2 separate regions of the Homo sapiens genome follow, and region 2 is linked to region 1. The links come from fine-mapping of genetic effects on gene expression. A gene starts in region 1. The other region holds a variant in brackets. All regions are shown on one strand. Distances are between the middles of the regions.

Region 1 (8,333 bases):
TAAGAAGTTCCAAAAGATCTTAATTAAGAAAAAAATAAGCCTCTGCAGGAGCCGAAGGGACTGAGCACTTTGGCAATTTGGAGATGGCTAATGACGGTTCTTACACAGTTGTTGGGGGTAGGGAGAGCATTCTGGGACAGTCTGACAGAGGAAGTCACTAGACTTCTAACTTTAGTAAACAGGTTCTCTAGCTTGGAAGTAGAACTGGTAGCTCAGCATTTACTGGGCTAGAAAACTTAGGAAGTTTCAAAGGGCACTGTAAATCAGGTGAAGGCTGACTATTTTGGTTTATAGCTTATATTATCTGAGAAAGAGCTATCAGAAAGGTAGGTTATTGAATGATCATAGCTTTCCCACAGTAGTCAACTTAAAATATTGTGTTCCTTTTTGTGACAGAAATTCTGAAACATGAGCTGGTATGCTGGCGAGTGCCTACAATCCCAGGTACTTGGAGGGGTTGAGGCAGGAGGATCCCTTGGGCCCAGCAGCTTGAGTCCAGCCTGGGCAACATACTGAGAGCCCATCTCCAAAAAGAAAACCATTCTCAAACATGCATGAAATGTAAGAAAATAAACCCCTATGACACATCATTTGGCTTCAAAAATTATCAATATTTTGCCATTCTTATGTGCTTGACTTTTTTTTTTTTTGAGACAGAGTCTCACTCTTTAGCCCAGGCTGGAGGGCAGTGGTGTGATCATAGCCTACTGTAGCCTCCAACTCCTGGGCTTAAGCAATCCTCCCACCTGAACCTCCAGCTGGGACTACAGACTCACGCCACCACACCCATCATATTTTTACATTTTTAGTAGAGATGAGGTCTCCCTTTGTTGCCCAGGCTGGTCTAGAACTCCTGGGCTCAAGCAATCCTCCCACCTGAGCCTCCAGGTTACATGGGACTACAGACTTACTCCACCATGCCCATCTAATTTTCACATTTTTAGTGGAGATGAGGTCTCCCTATGTTGCCCAGGCTGGTCTAGAACTCCCGGGCTAAAGCAATCCTCCTGTCTCCACCTCTCAAAGTGCTGGGATTATGGGCTTGTACAGCCTGGAGTGCAGTGGCACCTTCTTTTTTTTTTTGAGACGGAGTTTCACTCTTGTTGCCAAGCTGGAGTGCAGTGGGATGATCTCGGCTCACTGCAACCTCCGCCTCCTGGGTTCAAGTGATTCTTCTGCCTGAGGTTCCTGAGTAGCTGGGATTACAGGCATCCACCACCACACCCAGATAATTTTTTGTATTTTTAGTAGAGATGGGGTTTCACCATGTTGGCCAGGCTGGTCTCGAACTCCTGACGTCAGGTGATTCACCTGCCTCAGCCTCCCAGAGTGCTAGGATTATAGGCGTGAGCCATTGTGCCCAGCCCAGTGGGCACCTTCTTAACTCCTTGTAGCCTGGAACTCCTGGGCTAAAGCCATCCTCCTGTCTCAGCCTCTCGAGTAGCTGGGACTACAAGGGTACGCCACCACACCTGGGCTAATTTTTAAAACTTTTGGTAGAGACAGAGCCTCACTATGCTGGCTAGCCTGTGCTTGACTTTTAAATATGTGTTTGTGTAAGGCTTTCTTTAAAAGCTATTAACTATACTATTTTAGCAAATATACATGGGAAATTATCAAGGAACAATAAAATGATCTTGTTCCAAGCACCATGAACTTGGAGCCTTTCATTTTTTTTCATTCAGGGTGGATATGAAGAGCAGCTGCTGACCTTGTTAAGGTAGCCACAGAAATGACTGAAGACTTAGAGGTGGGAGTACACAAGCTTGGAACAAGATTTTGTTCATTCATTCCTACAGCCATTCAACCAGCATATTCTGGGCACTTCTCATGCACACTGGCCATCCACCAGGGAGACAGGCCATGCTTAGACATAGGCTTATTGCAAATCATGTTTTATCCTTTCTTGGCTCTAAGACTGGACAAGTTCTGCCTTTCAGCTTCACCTTCCTCATCTATAAAGTAAGGATAACCTTGAATGGGGCACTGATAGAATTAAAAGTGAGATAATTGGTCGGGCGTGGTGGTACATGCCTGTAATCCTAGCACTTTGGGAGGCCACGGTGGGAGGATCACTTGAGCCTAGGAGTTTGAGACCAGCCTGGGCAACAAAGTGAGAAATTATCAAGGAACAATAAAATGATCTTATTACAAAGAAAACCAAATTCTCAAACATGCATGAAATATGAAGAAAATAAACCTCCATGACAATCATTTGGCTTCAAAAATTATCAGTATTTGAACTTGGAGCCTTTGATTTTGATTTTTGCATCTCTACAAAAATTACAAAATATGAGCCGGGTGTGGTGGCGGGTGCCTGTAGTCCTAGCTACTTAAACTGAGTTGGGAGGATTGCTTGAGCCCTGGGAGGTCGAGGGTGCAATGAGCCATAATCGTGACACTGTGTGTGAGACTGCCACACACACACACACACACACACACTAGTGAGGCTACGCACTCAGAAATGCACATGAACATCACTGGTATTCTGGAACCCACGTGTCGTTTGCCACTGTTATCTGTTAGGCTTTAGGGCTTGACGACAGAAATCATCAGGCAGTCTCTCTTTCCTCTTATATTCCTTTCCCAATCTAAGGGGGCAGCAAAAAGCTCAGAGGTCCACCGTAGCATGCAACATGTGAGATGCCTAAAGCCCGCCCCCATCGACGACAGCATTCATCCATCTCCCGAATTCATCTGGGTCATACTCTCGAGTTACCCGGCTTTCTTGAGGTCTTGCAGCTCTACAAGGATAATCTGTGGCTAAACTTTGCTGTCGTCCAAGGTCAAATGTTTGGCTCACAGGTTGAAGAGCCTCCCATGGCACCGTCGTTTGGTCCTGAGAAGGGAAAGGCGCCCAGGGGGCGGGCTGCTAGAGCACGAGGCAGCTGTCTCCCAGTCTTCCCAAACCCGTAGCCGAGGGGGCGTTTCTGCGGCGCAGGGGCGGGCACAGCCGACGCCTCCCTGCTCCACCTTCTGTGTCGGCGCCTAGACTCGGATAGTGAATTTCGGAAAGTTTCACTCGGGTTCGTGCACGTGGGCACCTCCGGACCCGGCCTCCTTGCCGCGCGCTCTGCTACCCTCTCCATCCAGCGGCGCAGGCGGCCCTCGCCTCACCCCTGGGCGTAGCTCTGGGCTCCCTTTGGCGTCGCCAGCTTCGCCTCCTCCCGCCGCGTCTCCTCCCGCCGCGTCACCCGTCGGTCCCGGCCGCGCTCGCACGCGGTGCGCAGCTCCCGGGCTCCAGGCGGCGGCGCGTAGCGGGCGCCCCCGAGGCGGCGGGCCTGAGAGGCGGGGACGGGGCGTGCCGCCGGCGCCCGGCTCCCGGAAGCGGCTGCTTCACAGGCTCCAGCCGAGCGGACAGGCGTGGCGGCCGGAGCCCCAGCATCCCTGCTTGAGGTCCAGGAGCGGAGCCCGCGGCCACCGCCGCCTGATCAGCGCGACCCCGGCCCGCGCCCGCCCCGCCCGGCAAGATGCTGCCCGTGTACCAGGAGGTGAAGCCCAACCCGCTGCAGGACGCGAACCTCTGCTCACGCGTGTTCTTCTGGTGAGTGTCCCCGCCCGAAACAGGTCACCCTGCAGCCGCTGGCGCCGCGGACGCACTCTCCCGGGGCCGCGCCCGATGCTGCCCAAGCCCTCTGCGGCTGGGGGCGAGGGGAGCGCTTTCCTACGCCACGCGGTCCACGCCGGGGCTTTCTGCTGCGGGTGGCGCCGCCCCCACGCCGGCCGCGTGGTCCCTGCCTGCGCCCCGGGGCGCGGCGCAGGGGGACGCGGGGACGCGGGGCCAGTGGCTTTGCTACTGGAGGCCCTGCGGGCCCTTAGGGCTCGGGGGAGGAGGAGCAGGAGGTGGGGAGGCGGGGAACCCAGGCTGCCGAAAGGGGGAGTCTCTTGCCCAGCGGGAGAAGCGACTGCACCCCTTACACGCCCACCCTTCGCTGGCTCCCGCCTCCTGCTCTGGGACTCGCAGTCTCCTGAACTCAAACGCACCTTTTCCTTTCTTTTTAAGTAAGCAGCTTACGAACAGTTTCCTTTATCTGATCTCAGCCAAAGCCTAATTAGTGTCCTGGACCTATGCCATCTCCCAGTAGTGTCCCCACCCCTTCCGATATTCCTTACGAGACAGCTCGATCCAACTCCACGTCCCGTTGTACCTCTCTGTGTCCCGGTGTCTCTGTATCTTTTGTCTCAGTGACCAGGGCTCTCCTTTTGCCTCTTTGTGGGAATCTCACTGTGTGTCCATGTGGGTCGTGGTACCTAGTTATGGCAAGTTTCATGTGGGTAAAATAACACTATTATTATTTTTCATTTATGAATGGGGACCCTGTTCTTGAACAAGATTTTCCAGGATTTGCTTTTAACTGGGACATGCACCGCCACGACTGGAGTCTGTCTTTGACCAGCTTCTTTCCCCTGTTTCCAATACTTTCACTTCCACGTAGGAGGACAGCTCGGAGGTGGGGTCCCTGGAATCGCTAACCTTCAGAGAGGTGATCCATGGTCTTGATGCAGGTGGTTCCTACCAGGAGTTCTACCTTCTTAAAACCACCCCAGGGCTCCTGAGCTGGGAGGGCCCACAGCCCTACCCATTTTGTGCAAGGAAACAAACGGAGAAAGACTCGGGTGACAGTAGTAACTAAAATTTCCATCTTGGCCTGGCGCGGTGGCTCACGCCTGTATCCCTGCACTTTGGGAGGCAGAGGTGGGTGGATCACGAGGTCAGGAGTTCGAGACCAGCCTGGCTGACATGGTGAAACCCCGTCTCTACTAAAAATACAAAAATTAGCCGGGTGTGGTGGAGCACGCCTGTAATCCCAGCTACTCAGGAGGCTGAGGCAGGGGAATTGCTTGAACCCAGTAGGCGGAGGTTGCAGTGAGCTGAGATCGCCCCACTGTACTCCAGCCTGGGTGACAGAGTGAGACTCCGTCTTGGGGGAGTGGCGGGTGTGTGTGGGGGAATTCCGTCTGCTAACTACATAAGCCTGAACCTTTGAAGGGCTTCAATCTCACTTGGATGATTATTAGATCTTCTGTTTCTTGACCTCTGCCGCCTCATCTTTCCCACATGTTGATATTGCCTTTTATTATGGGACAACCTAGGGTGGGGGTCTCCAATTTTTTGGGTTCCCTGGGCCACACTGGAAGAATTGTCTTGGGCCATACATAAAATACACTAACACTAATCATACACTAACACTAATGATAGCTGATGAGCTAAAAAAAAATCGCAAAAAAAAATCTGATGTTTTAAGAAAGCTTACGAATTTGGCAGCCCATGGGCCTCAGGTTGGACAAGCTTGACCTAGGGGATTCCAAGAGGATGAGTCGCTTACTCTTGTTTCGATTGTGGTACACTCAGTGGGTGTAGGAACTTCTCTTGGTTGTTTGGCGGCCTTTCTCTTAAGGAGAGGGGCACGTGGAGGAGGAAGGAATATGGGTGTGGTTTCTGCAAATAATAACTTGAGGTAGACAAATGGTCTCCTCAACTTCAGGCAGGGCAAGGAACTTTTTTTTTTTTTTTTTGAGACAGGATCTTGCTTTGTGCAAGCTGTGACCCAGGCTGGAGGGCAGTGACACATTCATAGCTTGCTGCAGCCTCCAACTCCTGGGCCGAAGCAATCCTCCTGCCTCAGCCTCCCGAGTAGCTGGGGCTCCAGGTGTGTGTCACCATGCCCGGATAATAAAAAAAAATTTTTTTTGTAGAGATAGGGCTCTCTATGTTGTTGCTCAGGCTGGTCTTGAACTCCTGGGCTCAAGTGTTCCTCCCGCTTCGGCCACCCAAAGTCTGGGATTACAGATGTGACTCCTGCCTCCTTATATTTTTCTCCCCCTGCATTTTCAAAATGTAGGTGGCAGGGAAATAGGAAGTGATGCGCTCCCATTGATGACTTGAGTAGGTGTTCATTTCCGGTTTCCCTGATGGAAGGGAAGGAGCTAGTAGACCTCTGTTTTACTCCGAGGACACTTAAGCTGAGAGTGGTTAAGTTGCCTGGACTCACACAACAATCAAGTGTCAGAGCAGGCTCCAAAGCTGGGCAGACTGGCTCCCCAGCCTCTTTGGAGCTGCTGTACTGAGCTGCTTCCAGTTCAGGTGCTGTCGGAAATGCATGGAGAAGGCGCTCCCTGTTCTGGAAGGCTAGAGTTTCTCAAGGGAAATTCTTAAAGTACCTGCAGTTGGAGATGATGCATGTGTAACAACTATTAGTGTGCTTTAGGGCAGCTGTTCTCAAAGCATAGCACTCAGAGCAGCAGCATCGGCATCACTTGGGAGATTCTAAGAGATGCAGATTCTCCAGCATCCACTCTGGACTGATTCAGTAAAACTGGAAACACTGGGTGTGTGGGTGGGGGTGGTGAGGTTTCAAGTGCTCCAGGTGATCCTGATTTGAGGCGCTTACTGCTTCCAGCTACTCCTTTCATTGGAGTATTATTACAGTATTATGCTTTTCTTTATTTTTAATTGTTAAAATTTCTTTATTTCTTTTTTTTGAGACGGAGTCTTTCTCTGTTGCTCAGCTCTGTCACCCAGGCTGGAGTGCAGTGGTGCAATCTCTGCTCACTGCAACCTCTGCCTCCTGGGTTCAAGTGATTCTCCTGCCCCAGTCTCTCAAGTAGCTGGGACTATAGGCGTGCACCCTCACACCCAGCTAATTTTTGTATTTTTGGTAGAGATGGGGTTGCACCATGTTGGCCAGGCTGGTCTTGAACTCCTGACCTCAGGTGATCTGCCCGCCTTGGCCTCCAAAAATGCTGGGATTACAGGCATGAGCCACTGTGCCTGGGCCAGTTTGAGGGATTTTAAAGTCTGAGGCCTCATAGTGAGAAAATAATAATAATCATCATCTGAGGAATGCGGAGTCCTTTTAAATTATCAGGCCCAGAGAGACATTAAAATGACACAGCAGTCACCTCGTAGTTCCCACCCCCTTGAGCTATTTACTTATCACTCGAAAGTACTTCATATTGCCACATAGCTACAGATTAACCTAACAGTGCCCCAAGGACACTGTAATCCACAGCTCAGGAGTTTGAGCTCCAGCGATCTGCCTGCCTCGGCCTCCCAAAGTGCTGGGATTACAGGCATGAACCACCACACTGGGTCTGTAGTAAATTCTTGAGTTATATTTTGTGCCTTAGCCTCCTGCTTTTAGGTCAGTATTTGTGTACCCTTCCCACTGCCAGTGGAAAGCTGAAATGAGCCCATCCAGGAAGTGGCTGCCTGGAGACAGGGCCCACCTTGTAGGGAAAAACTGCTTTTTCACCTTCTTGTTGAGTGTTTGCTTTTCTTCTCAAATATCATCTGCTTTCTGAACTTGTGAACTGGCAGCTGCCTACCTAAATGATGCCAATAACTGGCTTACTGACTTTTATTCAAAGTATTTTCCCGGGATTTTGGTGTATTTATAGCATAATTTGGACTTGGAGTCTAAAAGGAGTCATGCATTATGGCTGTTGGCAATTGTGGATTTTTAAAGGTAGTATTTTCACCTATTTCTTTCTTTTTTCTTTCTTTTTTTTTTTTATGAGACAGAGTTTTAGCTCTGTTGCCAGGCTGGCCGTGGTGTGATCTCGGCTCACTGCAACCTCCGCCTCCAGGGTTCAAGTGATTCTCCTGCTTCAGACTCCCAAGTAGCTGGGATTACAAGTGCCCACCACCATACCTGGCTAATTTTCATGTTTTTAGTAGAGACAGGGTTTCACCATGTTGGCCAGGCTGGTCTCGAACTCCTGACCTCAGGTGATACACCTGCATCGGCCTCCCAAAGTGCTGGGATTACAGGTGTGAGCCACTGTGCCTGGCCTTCCATTTTCTTTTAGCTATTGTTTCATTTCTAACAATAAAGGCAGCTAGAATTTCTTTTGGTATTTGATATGAGATAGTCCCCATTTTTTCCCCAAACAGCTCGTTTTCCCCATTATCATTTATTGAATAATTCCTCCTCTTTCCCGTTAGTGGAAATAAGTGGCATAGCCTATGAACTGTGGCCAGCTGGGCACAAGATGGGTCAATCCCTGAGACTCTCCTAGGAATTGTCCTGCTGCCCCCTGGTGCCCGGCAGGCACTTTGCATTCCTCTGCCCACACCTGATCCAGAGGTGATCTGGGGTCAGCAGCAGGGTGGAGGCTAACAACGAAGGACTTTTCCCTAAATATGGGCATTGAGAGGGATCTCCAGATGCATCTGGCCCACAGAAAGTGGTTAAATCCTTGCTCCCCTGTTGCTGGCCATATCTCAGTGGGTGAAGTGTCATCTTGCAAAGCCTGTGCTGCTGTGGAAACTGCCACTGGTGACCAGACAGACTCTCTGGAGACCTGCCCTAGAGAGCTGATGACATGAC
Region 2 (8,333 bases), 54 kb after region 1:
TTAAGAAACCACTATTGGCCAAGCTTGGTGGCTCATGCCTGTAATCCCAGAATTTTGGGAGGCCAAAGTGGGAGGATCACTTGAGCCCAGGAGTTCGATACCAGCCTGGGCAACATAGAGAGACCTGGTCTCTATCAAAAATAAAAATATTAGCCAGGCACAGTGGCATGTGCCTGTACTCCTAGCTACTTGGGAGGTAGAGGTGGGAGGATTGCTTGAATTCAGAAGTTTGAGACTGCTGAGCTCTGATCGGATCTGAGTGAGCTCTGATCGCTCCACTGTACTCCATCCAGCCTGGGCAACAGAGTGAGACTCCATCTCAAAAAAAAAAAAAAAAAAAAAAAAAGAAACCAGTATTCAGAACTTCTCAAATCCTTGGGGGAAAAAACAACAAAAACTAAATGCCACCACCACCAACAATAAATAACAAAACTCTCTACTAACCCTTGTCTAAGACTCCTGCTTGCTGGAAATGATGCTGGGGGTTGTGATCCTGGGGTGGAGAATGTCTCTGTATTGCTGAAGCTGATGGCTTCCTGTGTTGGGCATTGAGCACGACTATGCTATATTGAGTTTGTATTGAATTTTACCCTAGATCATTGCTCAAGGTACTCTACCCATCTGTCTTATTCAATAATACAATCATTCATTCTTTCCATAACTGTTTATTGAGTATCTATCACATACCAGGCATAATGGGGATTCCAAATAATATGGCAGTAGTCATTGCCCTGAAAGCATTGTACTCCTAGTAGGACAGTTAGGAGGGAAGCGATGCTGCTGTACTAAGTATTGTGGGAGATAAGGGGGAGAAGAGACTAAGTCTGAGGAGAGAAGGGCTACTGGGGCAGAACTGGGTGGAGGAATGGCTCATTTGGCAGTGGTCTGGAATTGTTGACTAGACCCCCTCAGGGACACATTGGTATTAAGGAGCCAACTGACTTAGATTTCCATGTATAAAGTCCTTACATAGATGGTCAAAGATAATTTAGTCTCTTGTCAAAGTTGACTTTTGTCATCAGGCAAAAGCCTTTAGCTCTTGCTGGTACCCACATCTTTTCAGCCCAGCTTTTTGAGATCTGGGCAATGAGAGAGAGTAGGAGGGTCCTTGTTAAGTCCTTACTGATTTGTGTCATCCTCTAATAGAAGCTTTGGGTCTCTTCTGATTGCAGATACTTTAACTCAACAGTGGCATCCCTCCTTGTTAATATTTCTAAATGTTATGCAGTTAACTGTTCAGCCTGTGGAACAGAGTTACCATTCTCACTTTCCTTAATTTTTTAACTTCCTGGAGCCAGTTTTATTCCCTGATTAAAAAAACCTCTTTAGTCCAAAAAGACACCAGTGAATTTTACTTAGAAGTCCTTGCTGAAATATACTGTATGAGGTTCTGCTGGAAGGGAGGTCTCGGGCATGCAGAGGTCATCTCAGGCATGTCTGGGAAACCCACCTAAGTTGAAGCTGGACTGGTTAGGTTACAGTCTTCTGGACACATTTTGGAGGAGGTGAGGAGAAAGAGGTGAGTTGATGAGTTCTTCTTGCCATTGGGTTAATTAGAATTGCTAGTTTGGATCAGCAGGAGGTTTCCGGAATCCTGAACATAACTTGGATACCCCTGCAGTGTGTGCTCCAATCTTACGGGGCATTGAAAGCCCACCATTTCACTGCAGGCAGAAGCCACCAGGCAGTGGGTTCCCCATGGGAAGGGCTTCCTAGATTAGACAATCCCCATGTTAAAATAAAACATGCCTATTAAAGGTGACACATGGCCAGATAAGACAGCCAAGATGAAAGAAGTTTGTGTAATTGAGTAATTGCATCTATCAAAGTTATTAGAGGTTTCCTTATAGGGCACAAATATGTTTCTTCTTCTTTTTTTTTTTTTTAGACAAAGCCTTGCTGTTCTGCTCAGGCTGGTGTGCAGTGGCGATCACAGCTCACTGCAGCCTTGACCTCCTGAGCTCAGTCCATCCTCCCACCTCAGCCTCTGGAATAGCTGGGATCACAGGCTTACACCAGTACATCTGGCTAAATTTTAATTATTATTTATATTTTTTATTGTTTTGAGATAGTCTCACTCTGTTGCCCAGACTGGAGTGCAGTGGCATCGATCTCAGCTCACTGCAACCTCTGCCTCCCAGGCTCAAGTGATTCTTGTGCCGCAGCTTCCCGAGTAGCTGGGATTACAGGCATGTGTCATCACACCTCGCTAATTTTTATATTTTCTTACTAGAGATGGGGTTTTGCCGGGCTGGTCTCGAGCTTCTGGCCTCAAGTGATCCGCCTACCTCAGCCACCTAAAGTGCTGGGGTTACAGGCATGAGCCACTGCCCAGCCTTTTTCTTTATAAGTTTTTAGTAGAAGTGGGCATCTCACTATGTTGTGTAGGCTGGTCTCAAACTCCTGGGCTCAAGCCATTCTCCCTCCTCAGCCTCCCAAAGCTCTGGAGTTACAGGTGTGAGCCACTATGCCTGGTGCATGTTAATTATTATCATTTAATGATTAATGATGTTAATTATTATCATTTAATGATTAATAATGTTAATATCATTTAAGTGATTCCTAATGGATGACCATTTTGATTTTTCTTTTTTTTTAGTAAAAAGAATCTCAAAATATTTGAATAAGTTCTTTCTGTCCTCTGCAAGATTACTATTTTGTCCTTTCGTAACTAATAAATAATTTGTACCTAGATAATTTTGGATTATGTAAATGTCCCATCAAACCTTCACTGACTGGTTTTAGCTCCCATTGAAAATGTTTTCTAACCTCATCATTCTTTATCTGAGAGTTTTTCCTTCTTACCCCATTTATGTCTCAGTAAGGATTCGTGGATTCTTTTGTTATTCAGTGGGTTAGAATTCATTGCTGTCATGATTTATTTGGATGCTTCCATTATCACAGACTTGTCTAGTGGGACCCCGTCAAGCTGGGTCCTCTGTTCTTTGGGCCCATCCTCTTGATTCCTTGAATGTTTCCTTATCGTATGGTATCTCATGGGCCATCTTTTTCTGCCCCAGCCTTTGAATCAGCTATTTCTTCAGGAAGCTCTGGTTCCTTTTAGATAATAATGGTTTTGGAAACCAAGATCTGGGCACCAGCATGCTCTCAGCTACTGGTGTGTCATTGCTTCTGGGGCCTGTCTGTGGATAGAGCTAGGGACTGTGTGTGTGTGTGTGTGTGTGCACATGTTAACTTTTCTCTCTCTAGCTCTATATATTCATATCTGTCTGTCTATATATAGCTGTATGTATTTTAAAGGTAAGTTTAAGCAAAACCCATGGAGGTAGGAGTCTACTTAAACACGGATGTGTAATTCTGGATATATGTCTCTTTTCTCTTGTTAACAGGTGGCTCAATCCCTTGTTTAAAATTGGCCATAAACGGAGATTAGAGGAAGATGATATGTATTCAGTGCTGCCAGAAGACCGCTCACAGCACCTTGGAGAGGAGTTGCAAGGGTAAGTCGGAGGCAGTAAAGTGGGCATTAAGGAAGCGTGGGTGTCTGTGTGTGGGGAGTGGGTTTTGCCTTCCTGGGTCCTGTCTGGAGCCTCCGTTTACCCTTAAGGTGAATATGTGTCACCTTCCTCAGGCTGCCCCTAGGCTCAGCCTACCATGGTGGCCTGGGGGAAACTCCTGTTGCCTGTGCCTCCGTAGAGGTCAGGGGAGCCAGCACCAAAGGCCCGAGATGCCTGAGGTCTGTCCCTCTAGGTGGAAGTGTTGTGGTTGGAGGAGGTTGTCTGGCTTATCTGTGCTACTGATGGGGCTTCAATCCAGTAAAGCTTGGCAGTAACTTGTTTCCCCAGACTTCCCCTCAAGGCCTGTTTTTCTGATGCTCCAGATTCTGTACCACACATAACCTTCAGGAGCCCTGGGAGCAATTAGTAGCATTTATGAAATCGTCACAAAATGCCCTGTCTTAAATGCATACCTGTCACTCTGCCATCTCCCCTGTTTTATATTGTGGCAGGGTTCACTCTTATTTACGAAGCTTTTTCCTCATTGTAGGTTCTGGGATAAAGAAGTTTTAAGAGCTGAGAATGACGCACAGAAGCCTTCTTTAACAAGAGCAATCATAAAGTGTTACTGGAAATCTTATTTAGTTTTGGGAATTTTTACGTTAATTGAGGTAAAAGCTTTTACATACCATGAATTGTTTTTCAGGACACATAGAGTAAATGTGCTCGCCATTGACTGGTGCTGTAATGGATGGGGGAACAGAAGGGAGAAGTGGCCAGATGGGGTTTGAAGGTATTTTAAGGTCTAAGGATTAAACATGTCTAGGAAGTATTAGGTAGTTAGTTCAGTGAGCGTATTTATCCAGGTGAATACTTAAGTGACTGAAGTTCAAGGTCATTATTGTTTTTCTTGTAACCAATTAAAATGCAGTGTCATGGAAGAAGAGTATTTTATTCTATGGTAGGACAATGTTGGTGCTCGGTAAATGTTTTAAATGCTAAGAGTCACTCCTGGTCAAAAGAGGATCCTACAGCCTTGAGGAGTGCGTGCCCTGTGGTTTAGAGGAAGTGATTTTGGATCGGAGCCCAGAATAATGTAAGACATTTTACAGGTGCTCAACAAATAATTGTTCACCAAGCCAAATCTGATAATTGCTCTTCTGGAGAGGTATTGTCACCTCTCCCCTCTCGGGGAAACAGAGCTGAGGGCCTTGCACCTGGGCTGGCGGTGGTGCCCCAGAGGCTGGAGCTGGCTGAAGCACCCAAGAGCTACCCCCTCCCAGTGGGCCCAGGTGCTGGGAGCCAAAATCCCCTCTGGGAAGAAGGTCCGAGGACTGTGCACCCAAGGGGATTCATCACACCCATCCGGTGTGTCTTCCTTGTTGTCGGAGTGGATTGCTGGTTGGAAGGTAGAGTCTTGGTGCCTGGCCCTGCAGAGAATGTATAAATGGACATTCCATGAAAAATCAAA[G/A]ACAGCCAGAAGGGCAATAACCTCTGTTACCCCGAAGGGCCTCTCTTGAGATCTGCAGAAAGACAGTGTTCTGCCTAGGCACACTGCCAGGTAGCTTGTCCGTTCTGGTCTTTGGCCTGCTAGAGGAGATGCAGAGGGTCCTGCTGGGTGACTTGTGTCCTCTGTGCTACCTTAGGGATGTCAGTGGTCCATTAAAGTTAGAGGGGTGGATGTTGCTGTTGTTACAAAAGGGTGGCTTTAAATGCAGGATGGGGAGTTGTCACGGTGCATTTTGTTGGGAATGAGGTGGGTGGGGGGAGGGGGTTGGTTTGTATGTGGGGGGGTTTGCTCCTGTTGAACATGCTTTTTGTTGTGGAGGGCACGGTGGGCAGTGGGAGGCAGGTAGGTGAGCTCTGCCCTACACCAGAGGAATCTGTCAGACAACAGGGGACTGGACGGTCCTGGGAGATGAATGGTCTCATTGGTGACAAAGGTGTTTTGGCCAGGGTGCCAGATGGTGAATGCCACCTTTGAGAGGGTACCCGCCCTGCCTGCATGCTACTGTGGCTTTGTGGCAGATGGGGTGGACATGCAGAATAACCGGTGGAACTGACTTGAGGGTGGAAGAGGGCTAGGAGCCCCTCAGGTTCTCCCAGCCCCTCTTCAACCTGTGCTGGGGTGTCCCAGCGATAGTGTTTCCACATGGCCCCGATCAGTTTCAGTTGGAAAGAAATAGAATGACAAGTCGGTGTCAATGTGGCCAGTGTGTGCAGGATTTCCTGGCCCAGTTTGGCTGTGCAACCTCAGAGAAGTTGTCTGGTAGCCATGGAGCCTCTGTAAGTGTCTAAGGCTCATGCCAGGTGTCTGGTTAGGTGTAGTGGGAATCAATGGCCTCACATAGGTTTCGAGGCATGCCTCCCTCAGCTACTTCCATTTCTCTAGTTTCCCTTTGTCACCAGCTGCTTATGAAATTGAAAACAGGATGATTTAGAAGGAACTGAGCTTGTCATGCTCAGGGCTGTCCATGCTGTCATGGGCTGCCAGCCACTTGGGGTGGGGTCTCTAACCCACAGATGGTGACTGGACTACAGTGAGATTTGGGTAAGCTTTTGGGAGAAGCAGGCACAGAAGTAGAGGCTGTAGAAGCGTGAATTTCTCCTGAGACTTGAGGACAGGCCCCACTCTGGTGCAAGGAGCATGGTAATCTTTACTGCTGGTGGGCATGTGGGAAGGGGCCCGGATCGAGGGGAGCTTTAATATGGGTACAGTTGGTGGAGAGCTGGTCTTTTAGCGGGGTGGTTATTGGGCAGTCATGGCAGAAAAGTAGGGAGTGGAGGACCTGGCAAATATGGGGGCTCATGCTCAGTACTGCTTAGCAGCAGCAGTGCTAGTAGAAGCAGCAGCAGGATTAGTAGTGGTTGGTACTCAGTAGTAGTAGTAGCAGCAGCAGTGATAGTAGCAATAGTTGTAATAATACTGACAGTGAGTACTTGAAAAATACTATGTACCAGGAACTGCTATGATTTCTTTCTTTCTTTCTTTCTTTCTTTCTTTCTTTCTTTCTTTCTTTCTTTCTTTCTTTCTTTCTTTCTTTCTTTCATGTTATTTTATTTTATTTTGTTTTTTGAGATAGGGTCTCACTCTGTTGCCAGGCTGGAGTGCAGTGGTGCTATCTTGGCTCACTGCAGCTTTGGCCTACTGGGCTCAAGCAGTCCTCCCAAGTAGCTAGGACCACAGGTGCACGCCACCATGCCTGGTTAATTTTTGTATTTTTGTTTCACTATGTTGCCCAGGTTGGTCTTGAACTCCTGGGCTCAAATGATCCTCCCACCTTGGCCTCTCAAAGTGCTGGGATTATAGGCAGGAATCACCATGCTCAGTCAGAAGGCATTCTTTTAACCCTACTTTTGGGAAGAGGACACTGGGTGCCATGTAGTTATATAATGTGCCTAGGGCCACACAAAGTGTAAATGACAGAGCCCAGATTCAGTCTCAGGAGCGCTGACTTAGGGACCTAACCATCTCCAGACTGTCGTAAAGGTGTCTTGAGAACTCTGTCTTCAGAGTATCCAGCACATGCTTCTTGAACTTGGCCTAGGGATAAGTCAGATGCTAAGAGCTCCCTGGAACAGTGGGGCATGGCTGTGGGAAATCAGATTGGGGATTATAAATTACCCTAGGTTCCTAGGTGTCCTGGTGCCGGAAAGTCAGGTGACATGCTAGAGAGTGGCTGGGGTGCTGGGCAGGTCAGAGCACCAAGGTACATTCAGGTTGACCACGAACTCTTTTTTTTTTTTTATGTTTTCGTCTGAGGTGGGGTCTCACTCTGTCACTCAGGCTGGAGTGCAGTGGTGTGATCTCAGCTCACTGCAACCTCCATCTCCCTGGGCTCAAGCAATCCTCCCACCTCAGCCTCCTGAGTAGCTGTGACTATAGGCATGCACCATGCCTGGCTTATTTTTTGTATTTTTAGTAGAGATGAGGTTTTACCATGTTGTCCGGGCCGGTCTAGAACTCCTGAGCTCAAGCCATCGGCCCACCTCGCCCTCCCAAATTAATGGGATTACAGGTGTGAGCCACTGTGCCTGGCTGACCAAGAACCCTTTAGAAACCTGTCTCCCACTGAGTACCATCCTCCACATGTGTGAGGCGTGCAGCCCTGCTGACCCAAGTTCATCAACATCCACGCTGTTAAGACACCATTCCCAGTTGTCTCCTCCTCGGATGGACGAGGGGGAAGCTTGTGGTCTTGCATGGTCACGACATTGACTGATGGTCTGGGCGGATGTCAAGTTCCCTGTTTTTACTTATCAAAGGCTCTGGGTTTCTTGCATAGCAATGATATCTCTGCAGTTTCAGAAGCCTTTGGCCTGAATCGTGAAGTGGGTGTGCAGTTTGCTTGGCAAGGATGAAGACCCCAGATGAGTCACTAGTATGGGGACAGCTCTTCTGTCCTGGTATCTGAACCCTCCCACTAGCAAGGTGGGCCCCAGGTATTAGGGCGGCAGGCTAAGGTGTTAAGATGGACCCACACAGTGCTGGCGGCAGGCACCTCTCATATAAAGTGGAGCCTGGGCTTTTCACAAGAGAGCACTTGTTGGTCCTGTGTTTACACCAATATCTTGGTGGTTTATGGTATAAAATTAGACAGTAGTCAGTTATTCTTTAGAGGATCATGGTGACTAGTGGATGATGCTCATTTTAACCTTGTGTCTTTAACATAATAACTGGTAGAACTTTTAGTTCCGATGCAGTGAAGTTCAGGGAGCTAAAGCTCTTCCCAGTTCAACTCAAAGTAATCCTTGGATTTTTTTTTTTCTTTTCCTTCTAGCAGTGAAAACAGCCTGAATTCTAGTATAAATACTATTGTTTTCCCAGCCTTGCCTATTGACACTTGGCTGTTTTGGAGAAGTTGGAGAGAAATA

The links. PIP is the estimated chance that this variant, and not a neighbour inherited with it, causes the effect.
Region 2: its variant is fine-mapped to the expression of ABCC4 in whole blood (INTERVAL, PIP above 0.99).

Annotation. Positions count from the first base shown.
Region 1 is chr13:95,296,452-95,304,784 of GRCh38, reverse strand. It overlaps ABCC4 (ATP binding cassette subfamily C member 4 (PEL blood group)), which reads left to right and starts at 3,334. Exons shown (of 31, transcript NM_005845.5): 1 at 3,334-3,544. The coding sequence starts at 3,471. LOC102724149 (a long non-coding RNA gene) reads right to left here and starts at 3,834. Exons shown (of 3, transcript XR_429273.4): 1 at 3,522-3,834; 2 at 2,459-2,839. RefSeq lists silencers at 2,829-2,888, 3,069-3,128, 3,159-3,798 and enhancers at 2,615-3,389, 4,992-5,051, 8,072-8,161.
Region 2 is chr13:95,242,771-95,251,103 of GRCh38, reverse strand. It overlaps ABCC4 (ATP binding cassette subfamily C member 4 (PEL blood group)), which reads left to right. Exons shown (of 31, transcript NM_005845.5): 2 at 3,351-3,461; 3 at 4,009-4,129. Among named protein-coding and RNA genes, the nearest start is that of SNORD13G, 37 kb to the right of the region's middle. RefSeq lists an enhancer at 6,052-6,131. The variant G/A (reference allele first, on the strand shown) is at 4,930.